Regions from separate parts of the Homo sapiens genome. Here region 1 is linked to region 2. The links come from fine-mapping of genetic effects on gene expression. A gene starts in region 2. The other region holds a variant in brackets. All regions are shown on one strand. Distances are from middle to middle.

Region 1 (4,396 bases), 37 kb after region 2:
TTAAAAGTGTTATTCATAATACCTCTTATAGCAAGCTATACTTATTCCTTCCTTTAAATTAAGTTGCCTTTTTCTTATAAAAGTAGCATATGTTGATTAAGTGGAAGTACAGAGCCAATTATTGTGTTAGTTTCCTATTGCTGCTATAACAAATTAACACAAATTTAATGGCTTTAAATAACACAAGTTTATTCTTCTGGAGATCAGAATTCTGAATTGACTTTCCCAGGCTGAAGTCAAGGTGTGGGCAGGGCTCATTCCTTTTAGAGGCCCTAGGGAAAACCTGTTTCCTTGCCTTTTTGTTGCTGGGGGCTACCCACATTTCTTTGTAACCTCCTTCCCTCATCTTCAATTTTGCTTCTGGCATCATATCCCCTTTTCCTCTAACTCTGCCTTCTCCTGAGTTTTCTTTTTTTTTTTTGTTTTTTGAGACGGAGTCTTGCTCTGTCGCCCAGGCTAGAGTGCAGTGGCGCAGTCTCGGCTCACTGCAAGCTCCACCTCCCGGGTTCAGCCATTCTCCTGCCTCAGCCTCCCGAGCAGCTGGGACTACAGGTGCCTGCCACCATGCCTGGCTAATTTTTCTTGTATTTTTAGTAGAAACGGGGTTTCACTGTGTTAGCCAGGATGGTCTTGATCTCCTGACCTCATGATCCGCCCGCCTCAGCCTCCCAAAATGCTGGGATTACAGGCTTGAGCCTTCTCCTGAGTTATTATAAAGACCAGTCTGATCATATTGGGCCAACCCAGGTAATCCAGGATAATCTCTCCATCTCAACGTCCTTAATTTAATGACATCAGCAAAGTCTCTTTTGCCATATAAAATAAAATTCATATGTTCAAGGGATTAGGATATGGAGATATTGGAGGGGGTTATTCAGTCGACCTTAACTACTGTCTATGTTTTGGAGCATTTACTTAATATTCTTCTCGAATTTATATAATTCAGATTATTCTGTATAGATACATTGATGTTATGCCTTTGTCATTTACCCTTGTATTATTTGTCCATCCGAATAAGTTTTTTGAAATAATACTTTTTGACAGCTGTATAATTCTTCTGTAGGGATATATGATAATTTATGAAGTCATTGCATCACAATTTGGACGCAATCGTTGGAGCAATCATGGTTCTAAGAGATAGAGTCCAATTCAACCTGCTTAAGCAAAGCAAGGAAGTTATTGGCTCTGGCAATCCAATGCACTGTTAACAACCAGACTCCATGGGATTCAGCAGGGCTTCAGGGGCCACTGCAACCATGGATTCTAATAGTGCCAGGACAAACTTCATCTTCATGTCCTTTTCATGCCCTCTCACATGTTATGATCTCATCCACTAGAGAGGCACTAGCTGACCACAAGCCCTTTGTTTAACTAAGTCAATCCAAGCCCCTTAAAAAAAAAAGAAAGAAAGAAAAACCCCAGTTTCTTTCATCATGGCCTGAATCTAATCTCAGGGAGTTCAATTGCAGGTCTTGGTGAGCTGGGTCCTTGTCCCTATCAGCAATGCCTGGCAGCTTGTTAGAAATGCGGAACTCAGGCTCCACTCAGGACATAGTGAATCACAGCCTGCATCGTAACAATATCCCAGGCAGCTTGAATGCCCATGGATGTTTGTGAAGCACCGTTCTAGTAATTGCCTTAGTTCTGTCTTTAGATTTTTGTGGATGTGGACAAAGCCTGTGTTGACTGACCAGCAATCAAGGTTTATAGTTGTAGGAGAGGAACAGGTAAGGGCGGTTTAGCAAGACAGAGCAAAAACAAATAGTTTCACAGATTTTTGAGAACCATACTCATAAAAATGATCATTGCCTCTGCACAGCAGTTTCTTGCACCATGAGGCAGCTAAATCTGAATAGCCAAGACCTGCAGCTGTGTCATCTGTAAGTTGTCTGAAGCACCTCAGGAAAATATGGTCTTGCCAAGTAAATCTGGTATCTCTCTGGTTTAGGCTCTGTCCCTGCCTGGTTCACCCCAGAGAGTCAGCTGATTTGTCCTTCCATGTGTTTGCAATTAAATGGGTGGACAAGGGTGAAGCCAGCACAATCTGGTATCATTTTGTTGATTACCTATGAGGCTTCTTTTCCATTCTACAAACATCACCTGCAGGGACTTACATCTGGGACTGTTGTGATTCCTACCTTTTTGTTGTTGTTGTTGTTGTTGAGACAGAGTCTTGCTCTGTTACCCAGGCTGGAGTGCAATGGCACGATCTTGGCTCACTGCAACGTCTGCCTCCCGGGTTCAAGCAATTCTCCTGCCTCAGCCGCCCAAGTAGCTGGAATTACAGGTGCCCGCCAGAAAGCCCGGCTGATTTTTTTTTCGTATTTTTAGTAGAGGCA[G/C]GGTTTCACCATGTTGGCCAGGCTGTTCTTGAACTCCTGACCTCAGGTGATCCACCTGCCTCGACCTCCCAAAGTGCTGGGATTACAGGCGTGAGCCACCGTGTCCAGCCCTCCCATCCTCTTAAGAAGCACGTAGTTTTCACACTGTTGCTAGCCAGGGAAACAACCTTGAGTAACACGTAGAGGAAACACTAAGCAAATTTGCAGAAGAATGATTTTAAAATATTCTTCAGATAAAATAATTGGTAACATGTATATGACTAGGAAATACGGACCTTGGTATCAGATATGTCTTACTGTCACAGAGTAAAAAAGGGCATAGATTCCTCTATATCTGGGTTCTGTGGTGCTAGAGAAGGATTTAAGGAACAGCGACAGTCACTCTGACATATTAACAAAACGTTTTCCAATGGCTTTTCTTGTAAAACAAATATAAGTCTCATTACCAGAAGTAGAAATAACATTAGAGGTACAATGATATGTTTCAGAGAATGGAAATCATCGCATTTTCCTTCTGATATGGCTTGGCTCTTTGTCCTCACCTAAATCTCATCTCTAATTGTAATCCCCACGTGTTGAGGGAGGGACCTGGTAGGAGGTGATTAGATCATGGGGGCGGTTTCCCTCATGCTGTTCTCATGATAGTGACTGAGTTCTCACGAGATCTGATGGTTTAAAAGTGTTTGGCAGTTCACCTCATTGCTCGCTGTCTTGCCTCCACGTGAAGAAGGTCCTTACTTCCCCTTTGCCTTCTGCCACAATTGTAAGTTTCCTGAGGCCTCTCCAGCCAAGCAGAACTGTGAGTCAATTAAACCTTTTTCTTTCTACCTAAATTATCCAGTCTCAGGCAGTTCTTTATAGCAGTGTGAAAATGGACGACTACACCTTCTAATACACCAGATAGGAGGTAGAGCTCTAGGGATCTTTTGGACCATAGGTGGAAGGGAAGTGCGGTATGGGGAGCAATGTTGGGGGTATTTATAAAAGGGCAACATGAGGGATCTTTGTGTGGATGGGATGGAAATGTTCTGTATCTTGACTGTACTAATACAAATGACCTAGTTGTGATATTGTACTATATGGTATGTTACTACTGGAAGAAACTGCATAAAGGGTGCCTGGAGTATTATTTCTCACAATTGCATGTGAATCTACAATAATCTCAAAGTAAATTGTTTAATTAAAGCATTGCGCTGAAGTAGTATCTATCTTAATTACTGAGGGTTTTTTTTTTTTTTTTTGCAGCTTCTTAAATTTTTCTCCCATGGCTAGTTCCTCTCCTGCCTCCTCTCAATTTCATCCCTACTCAGGCTGAGTGCCTCGTTCTAGCAAATAAATATGGGGCAAATAAGGTATCCTCCCTAGCCTCAAATTCCTCATCTGCAAAATGGGAATGACGGGAGTTCTCACTTCCTAGGGTTTTTGTCAAGATTAAATGAGATAACGCATGTAAAATAATTAGTCCAGGGCCTGGTATATAGTAAATTCTAGTTAAATGTTAGTTATATAACCATATCGGAACACGGTAATCAGAGTGTCTATGTAAAAATGTGCACACATGGTTACAGGGGATGGGATTAGAAGGAGCGTTCATTTTGTTTAATGACTCTACTTCCAGGTGACAGGGCCCGTGTGGGTCCTAAAAATGCTGTGTCCTCTCGGGGCAGGCTTCATGGGTGTGTGGCTTGTGCAGGCTTACAGGGTCACATGCTGGGTTTTATGTTCTGCTATGTATTAGGGATTAATACGACGTGTGTATATATGGAAGGGAGTTTGTTAAGGAGAATTGACTCACACAATCACAAGGTGAAGTCCCACGATAGGCTCTCTGCAAGCTGGGGAGCAAGGAAGCCAGTAGGGGCTTAGTCTGAGTTCAAAAGCCTTGAAATCGAGGAAGCTGACATTACAGCCTTCAGTCTGTGGCTGAAGGCCAGAGAACCCCTGGCAAACCACTGGTGTAAGTCTAAGACTCCTGCCCTGGTGTCTGATGTTAAGGGCAGGAAGCATCCAGCATGGGAGAAAGATAAAGGCCAGAAGACTCACAAGCCAGCTTATTC
Region 2 (4,396 bases):
AAAAAGGTCCTTCAGGAACACTAATGAGCATAATAATGATTTGGGGAGATTGTAATAAATGTCACTTCCTCTTTGAATAGTACCCCTCTCCCTCAATACTTATTCTGAATCAGAAATGGGCATTTTAAACAAGCACACTAAGAGCTTTTTCTGCATATCCCAGGACCTTGTTTTGAGAAACACTGCTGTAATAGAAAACTCTATTTTTTTCTCTTTTTGTCTTCTTTTAATTTAGCAGAGACAGGGGCTCCCTATTTTGCCCAGGCTGGTTTCCAACTCCTGGGCTCAAGTGATCCTCCCGCCTCGGGCTCCCGAAGTTCTGGTATTACAGGCATGAGCCACCATGCCCGGCCGAAAACTTTGTTTTAAACTTGATAATCACCATTATAGACCATCTTCATGTTTTCATAATAAAGATAGGGTGCAAACTGGCACTGTCATATACATAGAGCTTGGGGAAAAAATGTGCTGTAGCTTGGTAAATTAAAAAACGACAACAAAAACTAAGATAAGACTAAAATCCCTAGTGCTGCACCACATTTTTCTTAGTACTGAAAAGTGGCCAAGGAGCTGGTAGATAAATCTGAGGCTATTTAAGAAAAAATGTTTTAACTGTTTTGCAAGACTCAGGTGGTATCTCGTTTCTCTGTCTGTGGTGGGCGCATAGTTGGAGTAGAGAGTTGGCATACAGGGATAAAAAGAGGATTCAAATTGAAAAGTACTGAGCAATTACACTCAAAGACCTTGAATCCAACCCTGCAAAAGTTTTCATGGCTTCCAATTCCTAAATTCATTTTAAGTTTAAATGAAAGCAACCATCTAAGTGATGTGCTGGGACTCAGATCAGGGCTAACATTATAGATCTTATTCCAATTTCATAAACCTACATATTGAAATAAAACCCCAAATGCAAACAATGCATTCAATCACGTTGTAAATCATTTTCTGTGCTGGTTCTTTCAATCTTTAGCCAAAACTAGATCTGGGACAGATTCCAGGCAAGGACAAAAATGCAAAATTCCATACTCCCCATTCTTTGATTATTTTACCTTGAAGTGGATACTCGACAGTTAGCCACGGGAGAACTTGAAATTTTCTGATTCATTCTCCTCATTAATCAAATTGACCAAGTAATTTTTAAACCTCCAGTCAGCTTTGTGCCTTCCTGTTACTGGCCCAGTATGTAGTCTTCCTATGTCAGAGACCATGCACATAAAAAGAGTACTTGAAACTTATCTAGACCTACAACCAGTTTGACAGTGAGGAAGTTGAACCCAGCTTTCTTCGGGAGTTGCCCAAGATCAAACGGCTTGGGTTTGTGGCAAAACCAGGACTCAAGGTTAGGAATTCTGACTCTAGGCAAACGAAGCTCTTGAGAGTTCTTCCAAAACACTCCATGCGAGTGATTTAGGATGGTCCTAAGGCAGGAGGAAATGCAAAATGGTGGCACCCTTTGCCCTGACAAATGGTTCCTGAGTGACGTTAGTTTCTATGGTGGTGTAGCAAGAACATTTGAACTTCAGGCACGAAAACTGGGTTCCAGACACTAACAAACTACGTGCCCTTCGTGAACGTGCTTAATTTCTTTATGGGAAAGCAGCCAGTACAAACCTCCCCACTCATAGCTATCCAATATATCATTTCCTTCTTTCACTTGGGAATTATAAACATTCAGGGGAATAATGTAAGGTAAATCACTTAGGACAGTGTCTGGAACATATTAAGGCTCAATATTATCACTGACTACTACTATACTGCCAGTCTTTCAGAGAAGCTCTTGCTACGCGCCTCTAAAACGTAGGTAACACGCTAAATGTATTCTCGTAATTTTCTTTTACCGTGGCCCCAGACTGCGCATGTGCGCCCCCGTGCGGAATCGCGCACCCCAGCGGTTTTCCAGCGTACGCACAAGTTCCGCCCTAAGGGACCGCCCCTTTAAGCGCGGGCACTGCGGTGGAAGCGCGCGCTGGTCTGGACATGACGTAAACCAATGGGCAGGCCCGGAAGACAGAGGCGTTTGCTTCCGTGGCCAAAGGCGCTTCATTTCCGGGTGAAACTGGCATTGAGGGTACTGGGGCGTGCGTGAGGCGTTTACTGATGCTTCCTGGTCCGGTGGCCTCGGTCCCGGTAAGCCAGGCATGAAGATCACAAGGCAGAAACATGCCAAGAAGCATCTTGGCTTCTTCCGCAACAACTTCGGAGTCCGCGAGCCGTACCAGATCCTGCTGGACGGCACCTTCTGTCAGGCGGCGCTGCGGGGCCGCATCCAGCTGCGGGAGCAGCTGCCCCGCTACCTCATGGGGGAGACGCAGCTGTGCACCACAAGGTGGGCCCGGGGGGCTGGGGAGGAGGCACAGAGGGTCCGTCGGGTGTTGTAGAGGCGAGGCCGTTGCTCACAGACCTTCATTGCGAGCTCAGGAGGTGCAAAACGCCCCGCCCACGTGGAGTTGACAGTTAAGTGGAGAGGTGAAGGTGGTCAGGCGAATACCTATAATAGAGGCAGATTGGACAGTGCCCTGTGAATATCACGTGTCGTTAGCCTGGCGAATGAGAGCACATTATAGCAGAGAGATCCGACTTCGAATCTTGATCCCAGTTCTACCAGCTCTGTGATTTCTGTCAAGTTATTTAGCCTCTCTGAGCCTCGGATTCCTCATTTGTAAAATAAAGATGATAACTGCTTAGAAGATTGCTGTAAGCTCAAACGAGTATAGTGTACTAGAGCATTTTTCGGTATCCAAAGTGTACCCGTCTTCAAATGGTTGCTGTCATTTGCATAGCTTTTCTTAGTTTAAACCAAAACTCTGCAAGCCTCACAGTGAACCTGTGAGTTACCATCTTTGATGTCCAGGGCAAAAAGTCAGTACTTGAGATTAAGGAATCTGCCCAAGCACATTTGTTTATTCAACTCGCTTTATTAAGTACCTCCTATATGCCACATACTGCTCCCTCATGGCCAGTAAAGTGCATAAGTCAGTCTGCAGTGTGTGTTTTCACTCTAGGTCTGATGTTTCCCCACTTCATTGAAATGTGGGAACACTTAGGATGGAAGCTTGTCGGGATGAAGAGGAGAGAGGAGAGAATTGTGACAGATTTCAGATAACATTTGAGCCCATTCACTTGTTCAGTTCTGAGAGGAAGAACTATTTTGAATGACAGAAAAGAATGACACTTCTTGTTGTGGAGACCTCTTCACACGAAATGGAGTTATGAAATGCCTGGGAAAGAGGTTGCAGCACAGAATATATTTGGGAGTGAAACTAGGAAGAAGGCAAATTGAGGCTAGGCCATGAAGAACTATTAAGAAATTTAGTAGTTTTTTCATTGTAGAATATTTACTTTTAAAAAGCAAAAAAAGAAAATTAAAATGACTCATAATACCACTACTCACGAATAATCACTGTTAACATGTGCAGTGTCATCCATCCAGTTCTTTATACACACTCACACAAGCACAAGAATGGACTTTTAAGCCAGGCAAGGTGGCTCACACTTGTAATCCTAGTAGCTACACAGGAGGCTGAGACAGGAGGGTTGCCTGAGTCTAGGAGTTTGAGGTGAGCCTGAGCAACGTAGGAAACCCCCATCTCTAACTACAGCCATAACAAAGTATGGGCTTTTTCTGTGTATACTGTGTTAATAGTCTCCTTTTCCTCACATACGATTACTTAATGAACAGCTATCTGTATTTGTTCAGAATTTCTCAAGCAGGGTCTCGGCTGGGTTACAGATACCCCCAAAGTTTTGATCCCCTTAGTCTTTAGGGCTGTCTAACAAATCCTTCAGTAGTCTTTGCTCCTGAATTGATTGCTTTTGTCTACAAGCAATTTGTCCATATACTCCTGTGTGCCATAGAAATATTAACATTTTAAATATAGTGCTATGATATTAAAAAGGTTGAGAAGTGCCACATAAAATTATATTCTACAGCAATTTTTCTAACAAATTTATTTTAACTCTGGAATTTTTCAGACAACTCAAAGGTAGAATAATATAATGAAACCTCTCTCCAGCTTTTGCAGTTATTAACATGGCCAATCTTGTTGAATCCCTCACCTCTCCTTACTGATGGGTTGCTTTGGAGCATATTATTTATCACTTCTTTGGCATGTATCTTGAAAAGATAAAGAAGGCTTTTAAAAATCAGTATTCAAACTAAATACATATATTACATTTGATTTATATGTCACTTAAGTTTTTTAAAAAAATTTATTTTTGAGATGGAGTCTCACTTTATTGCCCAGGCTGGAGTGCAGTGGTGCGATCATGGCTCACTGCAGCCTCCGCCTCCCGGGTTCAAGTGATTTCCCTACATCAGCCTCCCAAGTAGCTGAGATTACAGATGTGTGACACCACGTCCTACTAATTTTTGTATTTTTTAGCAGAGACAATGTTT

What was found. PIP is the estimated chance that this variant, and not a neighbour inherited with it, causes the effect. A credible set is the group of variants that fine-mapping cannot tell apart.
Region 1: its variant is the best candidate, but not a certain one, in a credible set for the expression of UTP23 in whole blood (INTERVAL, PIP 0.80).

Annotation. Positions count from the first base shown.
Region 1 is chr8:116,801,377-116,805,772 of GRCh38, forward strand. The region is part of intron 2 of LOC112268030 (a long non-coding RNA gene); the gene reads left to right. Among named protein-coding and RNA genes, the nearest start is that of UTP23, 37 kb to the left of the region's middle. The variant G/C (reference allele first, on the strand shown) is at 2,340.
Region 2 is chr8:116,764,466-116,768,861 of GRCh38, forward strand. It overlaps UTP23 (UTP23 small subunit processome component), which reads left to right and starts at 2,059. Exons shown (of 3, transcript NM_032334.3): 1 at 2,059-2,326. The coding sequence starts at 2,139. It also overlaps a transcript of EIF3H not described here. RefSeq lists enhancers at 1,976-2,125, 2,136-2,445.